Homo sapiens: one gene and its partner. The protein of the gene in region 2 interacts with the protein of the main gene of each other region in a pairwise test. Each region holds a gene or a part of one and is shown on either strand. Other genes may lie near its edges. The genes, in order: PSMG2 and PSMG1.

What was found.
Region 1: the proteins of PSMG1 (region 2) and PSMG2 interact in binary tests that used the Homo sapiens proteins (3 or more experiments, as listed by UniProt).

The regions. Positions count from the first base shown.
Region 1 is NC_000018.10:12,719,751-12,726,240, forward strand, and holds the end of PSMG2 (proteasome assembly chaperone 2), read left to right. Parts: intron 1-759; coding exon 760-933; intron 934-4,748; coding exon 4,749-4,869; intron 4,870-5,688; coding exon 5,689-5,781; 3' UTR 5,782-5,990; downstream 5,991-6,490. UniProt on the Homo sapiens protein: Chaperone protein which promotes assembly of the 20S proteasome as part of a heterodimer with PSMG1.
Region 2 is NC_000021.9:39,173,978-39,180,451, forward strand, and holds the end of PSMG1 (proteasome assembly chaperone 1), read right to left. Parts: intron 6,460-6,474; coding exon 6,308-6,459; intron 6,010-6,307; coding exon 5,947-6,009; intron 4,671-5,946; coding exon 4,472-4,670; intron 3,595-4,471; coding exon 3,458-3,594; intron 1,688-3,457; coding exon 1,613-1,687; 3' UTR 792-1,612; downstream 1-791. UniProt on the Homo sapiens protein: Chaperone protein which promotes assembly of the 20S proteasome as part of a heterodimer with PSMG2.

The DNA of each region.
Region 1 (6,490 bases), on a different chromosome or scaffold from region 2:
CAGTTCTCAGTTGCCCAGGCTGGAGTGCAGTGGCGCAATCTCGAGTCACTGCAACCTCTGCCTCCTGGGTTCAAGCGGTTCTCCTGCCTCAGCCTCCCGAGTACTTGGGACTACAGGCGCATGCCACCACACCCGGCTAATTTTTTGTGTTTTTAGTAGAGACAGGATATTGGCCAGGCTGGTCTCGAACTCCTGACCTCAGGTGATTTGCCTGCCTGGGCCTCCCAAAGTGCTGGGATTACAGGCATGAGCCACCACGCCCGGCCCCAAGATGTAGCATTTAGATCATTTATTTTTTATTTTTTATTCTTTTGGGGATGGAGTCTCACTCTGTCACCCAGGCTGGAGTGCAGTGGCACAGTCTTGGCTCACTGTAACTGTTTTAGATGATGTAGATCATAACTTTTATCACTTAGACACCTATAAAACCAGGATGAAAAAATACCAACAAGCCAAGAGTTACCTTTCAAAATGAGCTAATTTCCAGGACTTTCACAAAAGACATTACAGGCTTCATGGCAGAAGGGAGGAAAGCTGTGGGAAATTTTTGCAATGGGCTTGCCTAAGTGTTTCTGTCTTTTTATATTGTCTCCTAAGTAAGTAAGTAAGTAGCAAATCAGAGCAATATTTTTTACTTAAGTCTGCTGAAACTTGTGTTTTGCCTGTGCAGCAGAATATATGGAGACCAAGAGAATTTTAGCTAAAGAACCGATGTTTGCTTTAGAGTTTTTAAAAAGTTAACTATATGATTATTTCTAGTACTCCCTTCCGGTACCTACTTACACCTTCCATGCAAAAAAGTGTTCAAAATAAAATAAAGAGCCTTAACTGGGAAGAAATGGAAAAAAGCCGGTGCATTCCTGAAATAGATGATTCCGAGTTTTGTATCCGCATTCCGGGAGGAGGTATCACAAAAACACTCTATGATGAAAGGTGAGTTTGTTTGCCTGTTCATTTGTTTCCCACTTTACTTAAAAATGAAATTAATGCAGTGAGCTGAGATCGTGCCACTGCACTCTAGCCTGGGTGACAGAGCAAGACTCTGTCTCAAACAAAAAACAACAACAAAAAAAACAAAATTAAGTCAGAGAATGTATTGGATTACTTACTGAAACTTTGAGAATATATTGCTAGGCCGGGCACGGTGGCTCACACTTGTAATCCTAGCGCTTTGGAAGGCCGAGGCAGGCGGATCACGAGGTCAGATCAATCAAGACCAGGAGATCGAGACCATCCTGGCTAATATGGTAAAAACCTGTATCTACTAAAAATACAAAAAATTAGCTGGGCGTGATGGTGGGCACCTGTAGTCCCAGCTACTCGGGAGGCCGAGGCAGGAGAATGGTGTGAACCCGAGAGGCGGAGTTTGCAGTGAGCCGAGATCGCGCCACTGCACTCCAGCCTGGGAGACAGCAAGACTCCGTCTCAAAAAGAAAAAAAGAAAATATATTTACAAAACTGGTACTATTGTAGAGCTCTTGCATTTAGGGGAAAGATTTAAACTTGGTTATAGAAGAACTGGTTTCTCAAAAGCCATATTTAATGCTTTTATTTTGTGTGACTTTTTAGGGATTCTAATACTTATTCTTTGCAACCTCTACACGCGCACTTTTTTTTAATTGTGGTAAAATATACATCGTGCAAAATTTACATTTATCACACATTTTAACTATATTTAAGCGTACAATCAAGTGCCATTAATTCACAGCATCTGCATCCATCAGCACTGTCTACTTCTAGAACTTTGTCGTCATACTAAATTAAAAAATCTGTACCCATAAATAATAACTCCCAACTTTATTTCTGTAAAATTGGTGTTGATGTTCCCATTTTCATTTCTTATTTTAATAATTTGAGTCTTTTCTTTTTTTTCCTAGTCAAGCTAGCTAAAGATTTGTCAGTTTTGTTTTTCTTTGAAGAACCAGTTTTGATTTTGCTGATTATTGTTTTTCTATTCTCTATTATTCTATTATTCTCTATTATTTCTCTCTTACCTAATCTTTATTTTTTTCCGCTAGCTTTGGATTTGATTTGCTTTTTTTTCTCTTTTCCAAGGTGTAAACTTAGGTTATTAATTTAAAAGTTTTTTTCTTTTTTACTGAATGTGTTTACAGCTGTAAATTTTCCTCTTAGTGCTGTTTTCACTGCATGCCCTGGGATTTGACATGTCGTGTTTTCATTTTCACTCATCTCAGTATTTTCTCATTTCCCTTGTGTTTTTGTTCCGTGTTCCTCTCTTGTCCCCCTTGCAAACACCTACCTCCTTTCTAAGAGTCAACTTACCCTTCACCTCCTGTCTGCAATCTTGCCTTTTCCTGTCTTCTAGACAAGGAAGTTGCGTCTGCACTCCCACTGCACTCCACCTCTTCTATACTTTGTTGCACTTACTTTACCAATCAATCCTCCTAAACTTTTGCTTCTGACCAAGACAGAGTAACTGATATCAGACTTGCCCTCCTGCCATAAAAATACTGGAACCTGACAATTTATGAAACAACTGTTTTCCAGACATTGGACTACAGGCAGCACATAGCTGTCATCCCTAAGAGAAGGCAAATTTTAAGTCTACAGTTGCCTGGCTTTCTGCTTGAGATACTTTCTGGACTGCAGCACAGGGAGCGGAACCCAAGCAGAGCTGAGTGGAGGAAATCAGTTAAGACTACAGGGAGGCCGAGGCAACTGGAAATACAGGGCAGAGAATCCGAGGGCAGGGGTGCTGCTCATCAGAGTCCAGGGGTCTGTTTCCTTGGGTCTGTCTTCTTGGGTATAGGGTGAAACTATGAGGACAGGCAAAGAACAGCTTCTGGTTAGCTATAAGCTTGCCCACAAAGTTAGCGGTGATAAACAGAAAGTATTATAAAAGTTAGACCTACTCAGCATCAAACATTCAGGAAATGCGGATTTTACCCTGAAGAAACAATATTTAAAATACTCAGTTGTATCAACCAGAATAAAATAGTTCCAAATAAAAAAGTAATAATAATAGTCATCCTCTGCCTTTCTTTTTAGCAGAAGACCAGAGGGTAATATTGAAATGATTATCCCACACTGTGTGACAAACTAATAAGAGGCGCGATAAGCTGAAGAGCATACCCCTGCGCTTTCCAAGTTAGAGCCTTGAAAATGCAAGCACAGCCTCGGAGCCAGCCTTCTCCAGGCGAGAGCCTTGCCTGAGGCCATCACAGCAGACGCATTTAGGAACTGGAATTTTCTGAGCCATCAGAGCTCATAGTGGTTCCATACAAAGATTGAGAGCCCCTAAGGTGTTTGAGAACCAAGTACTGGGCTAGGGTGAGTGAGGCTAACAGTTTCTACTTTGTAGTTTTTAGAGACAGAAACTAAAGTTAGCCTGGTATCATCTGAGACTTCCGAATGTATATATCAGAGTCTCCTCGGTGCCTTTCCTTCCTTAGAACTCGGCTCACTTTTATTTCTGTAGCTCTCTTCTCTGTCAGTCTCGTGCTTTCAAGTTTTGGCATGGCATTTTTCTCATAGTTCTTGGTTTTAGGGTGTTAGGAGTAATTTTTGCATTTATTGGCAAGCAGGAAACTTTTTGCCTTGGTGTATCTCCATCTCATCACTAGCTTGAGGCGTTTATAGTATGATAGGAGACTATGTTTTGGAGTTAGAGAGACCTAACTAGATATAGTTAGATATAGAGACCTTACTAGATATAGAACTTTGGGCATGTTAACTATGTATTAAATCTTTTTTTCTTCATTTGCGACAGAGTCTTGCTCTGTCTCACGCAGTTCTCCTGCCTCAGCCTCCTGAGTACCTACAGGCACATGCCACCATGCCCAGCTAATTTTTATATTTTTAGTAGAGACGGGGTTTCACCATGTTGGCCAGGCTGGTCTCGAACTCCTGACCTCAAATGATTTGCCCACCTCGGCCTCCCAAAGTGCTGGGATTACAGGCTTGAGCCAGCGCGCCCAGCCTGTATTCAATCTCTTTAAACCTGTTACCTCATAAAAGTAGCTAATACTTCTTTCATATTTACTGTGTGGTCACTGTTTTAAGCATTTTGCCTCCACTACCTCCTTTCAGCCTCACAACAACCTGTGAAGTAGGTTCCATTATCATCCCCCTTTTATAGATGAGGAACACCCCTGGTTAAGTAACTTGCCCAACATATCTGGTAAGTTGAAGAGCTAGAATCTGAATCCTGGTGTCTGTCTTTGTTCCCGTTATTCCAAACTGATTCACTTATAAAATGGAGCTAATTATAGCTTCTTCAGGATTATTACAGGGATTGTCATAAAATTTGCAGATAATGCTTAACACATAATAACCACTCAGCGTTTTCGGAAGAAGTAGGAACTTTTATTTCCTTTAATGATTCCATTCTCTTCCACAGTTTCCCTCACTGCTTTAGATAGTAACTAGGTGTTATTTTCTTTCAGTCTCTGCTGTGGTGCTTCTGAAAATTACTGTCTTCTGAAGTAGGTTTGGGGAGTAGGTCAGAACATACCTTATCTGCTGTAGCCAAGGACAGAAAGGCTGGTTTTTCATGCAGCCATGGGGTGAGGCATGATTGTGCGTGTTCCCCAGTGGGTGTTACAGGGGCCTGCTCTCACAAGTAGAAAACTCTGTGTGGGGCGAAGGGAGATGATAAGTGATCTTATGGTGTGGCGTCTTTTCCTTTCCTAAACCAGGTAGGTTATCGTAGCTGTAAAAACAGACACACTAGAGTCAGCTCTTGTACCCTATGAAAGAATACTGATTCTTATTTTTATTTCTTGTAGCTGTTCTAAAGAAATCCAAATGGCAGTTCTGCTGAAATTTGTTTCAGAAGGGGACAACATCCCAGATGCATTAGGTCTTGTTGAGTATCTTAATGAGTGGCTTCAGATACTCAAACCACTTGTAAGTTCTATTATAGCTTAAGCCTCTTCTTTGTCTGGTTGTATTCATTAACTCGCACTTTATATACTACCTAAGTAGACCAAGTAAGTGAACGTTTGTATTAAATATAGACATATCTTTACATAAAATTTAGTTTAAGCTGAACTTTTGAAAATTAGAGGACAGTTAACCAACCTATTATTTACAGTTTTTTCATTAAAGCTGACTTTCCAAAAAGGAAAATCCTTAGTTCTTCATTGTACTTACTATTCATGTTAGATTAATTATGCCAGACATAGTCTTGCAATAATAAACAAGCCTTCTGTGGAATTCAGGAATTTTTTTAGGGAAGTAAAAAGTATTGCTATGTGAGCAATACTGTAGCTATTGAATATGTATTACAGTTGATATTTTTCTCTATTATGAAATGAGAGCATTACACCCAGGGAAGTGAGTTAGCCTTTAGGCATAACAGAACACTGAGCATAAGGCTGCTTTCTAAGATGGGTAACTAGCTTTTTAATTCATGCTTTTGCCAAGAACAAATTGATACAAATCACATAATGCTGATTTTTTTTTTAATCCCTATTCTTTTTGAATGTGATTTTCCCTAATAAACTTCATCTACAGCCTTTCTGGCATATCTTTATAATTTGGAACTTAAAGAAATTTATCTTCAGTTGACATGAAGACAAAGAAACTTTATTTTTCCTTAACAATAAAACCTGGCTATAAAAGTGCCAACCAAAAGGAACACAAAAGGAGAGTTTTATAATTCACTTTAAAAGGAGATTTGATGGTAAAGTTTAAAGATTAAAATATTTTGTTCTTCAATTACAGAGCGATGACCCCACAGTATCTGCCTCACGGTGGAAAATACCAAGTTCTTGGAGATTACTCTTTGGCAGTGGTCTTCCCCCTGCACTTTTCTGATCTAATTTCTGTTTTATACCTTATACCCAAAACACTTACTACCAACACAGCTGTTAAACATTCTATACAAAAAAATTGTATGATCTGGTATTAGGAAATTACTTTCACAGTAAATATCAAAGAAAAAAGATTAAGGGTCTCTTTGCCATGCTTTTCATCATATGCACCAAATGTAAATTTTGTACAATAAAATTTTATTTCCTAAGTAATTTTGTCTTAAATGTATTTTTTTTAATTTCAGACTCTCTATTAGCTTCCTAGTTTGTCTCTAATAAATCACCACAAACTTAGTGACTTAAAACACACCAGTTTAATTTTTTCATTAACTAATTAATTAATTTTCATTCTGTATTTTAAGTAAAATGAGACGAGGTCTTGCCATGTTGCCCAGGCTGGTCTCAAACTCCTGGGCTCAGGCAATCCTCCTGCCATGTCCTCCCAAAGTGCTGAGATTACAGGCATTACACCACTATGCCCAGCCACAAATTTGCTTTTAAATTCTGACTTCTGAGTTCTAGGAGTCAGAAATCCAACAGTGGGTCTGACGAGACTAAAATCAGGGTGATCGCAGGGCACTGCTCCTGAGGAAGGCCTTAGGGAGAATTTGTGTTCTGCTGTTTCCAGCTTCTAGAGGCTGCCATATTATTTGGCTCATGGGCCCTTCTATCTTCAAAGCCAGCAGCTTAGCATCTTCAAATCTCTCAGTTAT
Region 2 (6,474 bases):
ACTCCTTTCTTACCACATCACCGTCAGCATCTTTGAGGTGGGGCACACAAAGGTGTGTCAACATGGAAATACCACCTTACAGTTCTTCAAAAGCATTCTTATATCATTATTCTCACAATTCAGCAAAGCAAGCAGAGAATTTCCTTCATTAAGCAGATGAAAACCTGGACCCCAAGGGAAGTAGATAACCACCCAGGGAGTACTGTCACCAGTATTATCTGTAGTTTACAGCTGAGAAAACTGTTGCTCAGGAAGCTTCAAGGCATCTGCCCAAAGTCACCTGGCCTGTAAGGGCTGGCCTGGGATTGAACATAGTCTGCTTTTCCAAGATCACTCTTCCTTACTTACCACACTGACCCTCAGCACAAGAAGAGGATTAGCTCCAGCTAGGACCAGATTCCAGGTCATATGATGTTACCTCAGGGCTCTGCAGGCACATTTCTGAATGAATGAAAACTTTTTTTGCAACAAGGGAAATGCTTAGATTTCTGCCTTCGGGATATATTCATAAGCATACTATGCACAAGACTTCCAATTCTTGATTATGTAAAGGAAACCAAGTTTACTCAAGAAGGAGTTAGAACACAGTATCTCCTTACCATACTTCTAATCATTACCAAAAACAGTAAATGAACTGGAACTAGAAAATATAAATGGGTAAGTACTCTAAATCTATAGTATGTAAATGATTCAATAACTAAAAAGGTGAAAAAGAAAGCAGAAGAGATAAGAAGCATTTAACTCCACCATTTTAAAATTTATTTTCATGAATGCAGTTCAGTTTGTGGTCCTGTGAAGTTGTGTGGCTACTCCGGGTTCATGATTCCATTCACACTCCTAATGATAACACATGACTGTAAGAGAACTGCTGACACGCGCAGAGCCAGCCTTGAAAGAGAGCCCTGGGAAAGTCTGGGTGAAGAGGCTATCTGTCAGATATTACTAAAAAGTGAGGACATACACATTTCTGTTTCATTTTTAGTAAATATATAATTTTGTTACTTTGTCATCAATTTTTACCCACAAGATAAAAAAAACTGCAGGACTCCTAAAATATCCAGAAACTTTCCACATATTAAGAATCACCAACAGGTCAATGAATAGTTACACCTAATTAACTACACTTTGCCACATGAATACCATCTGCTGATATCTGTAGCTTTGAAAAATTTAACTAAAGTTGGGCACAGTGGCTCACACCTGTAATCCCAGCATTTTGGGAGGCCGAGGCGGGGGAAATGCTTGAGCCCAGGAGGTCGAGGATGCAGTGAACCATGATAGCACACTGCACTTCAGCCTGGGCAACAGAGCAAGACCCAGCCTCAAAAAATAAATAAATAAATAAATAAGATAAAAATTTAACTATAGTACCTTAAAATATTCAAATACAACAATACTCCCACCTAGTGGATAAAAGGAAAATGCTTGGCTTATTTTGGTTGTGAATAATACCACCATAAATAAGGAATTAAAACTACAATTAATTTTTTACAATTTTATTCCGTTTCATCATTCTCAAAATATATCCCCCAAAAGTAATCTACAAAAGAGTGCAGGCTGCTCCCCTTAAAGGAATGGACAAGTAATATACACTACAAAACAATGTTTAAGATCATGTATAAATGTTACTCTGAATCTCATTTGTTGTCATCAATTTCTTTAGTATCTCAGTGCTTTGGGGAATATTCTGAAAGGAGAGAAAAAAGTGAATACAGTGAGACCCCAGGGATTCAGGCAGAGGCAACACCCCTCCCTCCACGACCAACAATCTCCACACTCGAGACTTAAAAACAGCCATGGGACAGGCGTGGCCTTTACTCTCCTTCTCAACGAAAAGGCAAGTGGGAAAGTCAGTTCAACAGGCCCTTTCCCTGCCACACTCGCCGATGATCTCCTGGCCTCCGATGGTCTCCTGGCCTCTGGAGGAAGTCTATGCTCTAACCCGCCCGACCTTCCCCACAAGATGTCTTCCTCCCCTCTCCACCAACACCACACTCCTCACGGCTCTCCTCACACTTTCCCACTCTGCTCACACTGCTTCCCTCTGCACACTTCTACCCAAGATTCATCCATCTTTCAAATCCAACTAAACTGCCACACAGGAAGAACTCAAAATAATTCCACCTTATTGAAAATACCACTTTTAAAAGGTCAGAAACAACGAACTGACTCAGGCTGATGTAATTGGTCATTAAGAAAACAGCACCCTGCAGAACCACCATCTTACCCTCCTGCTAATCATTATCTCCAAAGCAAAAATGAAAATGCTGAGTTAAATTTCCCCTTGAAAGTATATTCATAAAAGCTGAGTTTCCTTAAGCCCCATATGACAGATGATTTCCAAGTCTCTGAACAAGTCCAAGCGTTTATGACACACCTGTGTGCTACACACAGTCCTACAGCAGTAAACAAAACAGCCCAGCCCCTGCCCATGGGAACTCATCTCTGAGTTAAGTGGGATGAGGCAATTGGCTATTTAAACAAACAAGACGATCAGCATATACTTTGAAAGAGATGCTAAAAATAAATTAACTCCATGTGTCAGAAAGATTACCCTGGATTCTAGCTAATTTGCAAGATAAGCTTGCAGTATACTAAATCAGAGTTTTACAGCTGTACTCTTCAACAAATGGTTATTGATGGCTTTATTCAACATGCCAGGTATGTGGTAAACTTGGGATACCAAAATTAAAAATCGTGGTCCATTACCACAAGGAGCTGACAATCTAGTAACAAACTAATTTATGAGACCTGGGAAATGAGCTACTTCCAACAACTTACCACAAAAGTCTTAAAACTAATGGCCATTCCAGAATAAAACCGGGCTGAGGGACAATGTTGTTACAACCTCTTTCCTTTAAAGAAACCATGCTTAAACCAGAGGCTGTGGACTTCCAAAAAAGTCTCTTAAGAGAAAACAATGGAATCCCTAAACTACCTGAGATTACAGGCAAACATTTTCATGTACGTGTTCCAATTTTTTTAGAAAATGAGACCAAAGGTATAAACCAAGGGTAAGGAAGAGGTTCATTATGTAATTCTCTCATCTTCACATATACAGTTCTCTGTAAAATTGGGTAAATAAATATTATAATAATTTGATCCACACTATACTCAAAAATAACCGTCTCAAAAATTAAATAAAAATTTTTTAAAAAACCTTGCAAAGTAGTTATAGAAGCTTATTGAACAGTAAAACCATCTGTCCACATAGACATTTGGGATTTAATTGCACTGCATTAATCTATCATACAAGAACAAAGCATTCGTCAAGTTACAGACGTATACAGAAGAGATGATGACAATCAAATTCAAACTGCCAGACTAGAAAGCTTCGCTTTGAGAAGAATGGATCTCCAAGCATTGCTTAGGGTTTAAAATGACAGTATACATTTATGTTTGTTACTAAGCTGATTATAACAATGCAGCTATTAATTTAAATGAGTTAAAACCTTACCTTAACCAAACCCTTCAAGCTTCTGGTAGAAAGTATAGGCTTAAAAGCTTCCACTGTGATTAGGTCTAATTTCATCACATCAGTATAACACAAGTACAGAATTGCTGGGATTTTCCATACTTGACAGTAGCTTAGAACTATGAATACACAAGAAAAAAAAACGATGTAAGTTTTCTATTATGTTACTTTTAAATTAAACACCTTTAAATAATAAAGGCTGTTGTTAAAAGTAGTTATCTCAGCTGCCTCTTTCAATCAAGGTATTTACTGCAATTTTGAACCAATTATAATGAAGATTTTCTTTCAAAGTCAATTTATTTTCCTAATAATCTCTTCTTTTGCAAATATTAATTTTATATTTCCTGAAAATACAGCTGAGATGATTTAAGTAGCTGAAAGATTAAAATTCTACTGACTATAATAAAGCATATAAATAACAAATAAGTACAAAATGCATAAAGTGAAATATTTAGCCACTTCTCATTCTAGTAAACATTGAAAGCAAAAAGAAACCCCAACCAAACCCTATTTTAATACAGTTCATATAATAAATAACAATTATGTAATATATTACCCACTGAAAAGTAAATGGCAGTCTCTTTGTCATATGATGGCAGATGTGTGTGATGGTAATAAAAAAATTAAAGCAACTATCAAGATTCAATATTCAAAACTTCTGTTTTGATAATTAAAATGTACTTTATCAACTTTTGATGCACCAATAATTTATATTTAACACTGGCTTGCATTCTGAATAATCAAAGACCAAAAAGAAACACAGCATGTCTGAAGCCCAACAGTTAAGAAACATGAGCTCCTCAAATAACTGTGTCTGGAAAATCTGAAAACTCAAACTAAATATACTGCACTTGTAACTACAGATATTGAGGACTAACAGCAATATATTGGTATCAATCATCATTAATAAACTACCTCAAAAAGACCTCTAATGGTGAAAAGTAGTATCAATAAAGCAATAAGATAGAATGTAAATGTTACAAATTTTAATACCACCTGCTGCAGGAAGGTCGTGTACTATATTCGGTTGTTCTAGCAATGGACAACACGCCGAGTCTTTGAAATTCTGTGTTTTTAGGGCTCTCAGGAAAGGAGAAGGAAGGCTGCCGGTGGATTCTGAGGTTTTATAATCGGTAACATGTCGACATGTGAGAATAGTTATCTGCATGTTCTTCCTTGGACAAGAGCCAAAAACCTAACATAAAATTTATTTCAAATTAAAAAAAACATATAATTTTGTTACAGAATGGAAACATTCCTCTAGGTATTCACCTAACACCACAGACAATAATAGCATGCCTAGCAGGGGTGGGAGTGTGCCTTGGAGAAACAGAACACACCTGCTGTCACAACCTGGGTTTGATCTTGGTTCTGCTTTCTAGGTGGGCAATTTTTCCAAGTCACTCTCCTCATTAGTGAACTAAGGTGATATAGTTTAGATGCCTGTCCCCTCCAAATCTCATGTTAAAATGTGATTCCCAATGTTGGAGGCCGGACTTGGTGGGAGGTGACTGGATATGGGGGTAGATCCCTCATGAATGGCCTAGCACCACCCTGTTGGTGATACGTGACTTCTCACTTCTCGCTCAGTTCATGCTAGAGCTGGTAGTTCAAAAGAGGCTGGCTCCTCCCCTCTCTCATGCTCTCGCCATGTGATCTGCCTGCTCCCCCTTCACCTTCCACCATGATTGGAGGCTCCTGAGGCCTCAGCAGAAGCCAAGCAGATGCCAGCACCATGCTTCCTATACAGCCTGCAGAACTGTCAATCACTTAAACCTCTGTTCTTTATAAATTACCCAGCCTCAGGTATTCTTTATAGCAACACAAGAATAGATGAACACGTAATGCCAGCACTACCTACTTAAGGGGCCTGCGATGTGGAGTAAATGAAGTCAGAGTGCCAGAATAGCGACTACAGGTCTGCCGTCCAGAGAAAAAAAGTCACAGGTACACACCTGACATTCATTCCCTCTCCCACCTACCACTGACACCTTAAAAATAACTCTCATGAAATTCATTTTTGGAATTACTACACTTATAGGTAAGCTTCAATCACTGTGGTTCTAAATGTCCTCTTCTATAAGTAGAAGAGTCTGGATTTGATAGATTTCTAAGAACCCTTTTACCTTTTAATAAGATCTAAAGTGATGTAAACAAAGAAAGATGGGCGGGAGGAATCCAATTGTGTTTTATACTTCTGTGACCTACCATCCTCAATGCTGAGGACCAACTGTGTTTTATACTTCTGTACCTCAGCATTGAGGACGGGAGGACACAGAAGTATAAAACACAACTGGTTGGTCACGTTAAATAAGCAAGTTCTTTTATTCTTTATATTCCAAAAGAAATTCCCACAATATTTTAAAGAAATAAATATCTGACTGCATAAGTTTAAGTTAAAAGACATCGAACCCTTAAAAAATGAAAACTCCTGTAGACTAACCATTCACAGGTTTTCATTTCTCTCTTACCTTTTCCAGCCACTGATACTGTTGATCTTCTGCAACATAGCAACTGCACTGACAGAGAAAAACCTGAAAAGTCAAGTTCCACGCTTTTTGTCAAGTAAGTTTTATACACACCACAAACTATCACCATATATGTAACATGTGAATGACAACACTTAGGTAATACTTATTTTCCTGGCTCCACTATTGACCTACTTATTTCTCTTTAAAATTTAACAGTCAAACCACTACTGGTGATTAGTATCAGAAAAAGTGCACACTGACAGAGCAACTGAAAGATTTGCCATACTAAAGTATACTACCAGTAAATAACATGTAAGTGATACTTAAATAACTGCTTTTCAAACATACAAGTCCCACCTACCGAGGGATTGGATTTTAGATGATAAAACACACAAAAAGCCTCTGTGGAGGACAGATGTGTAGTGTCTGTTGTTCTACACCATTCATTCCAGAGTTTAGCACAACCAACTTCCTCCCAGACTCCTGAATTCATAACAAATGATGACAGAAATGCTGTAAAAAACAATT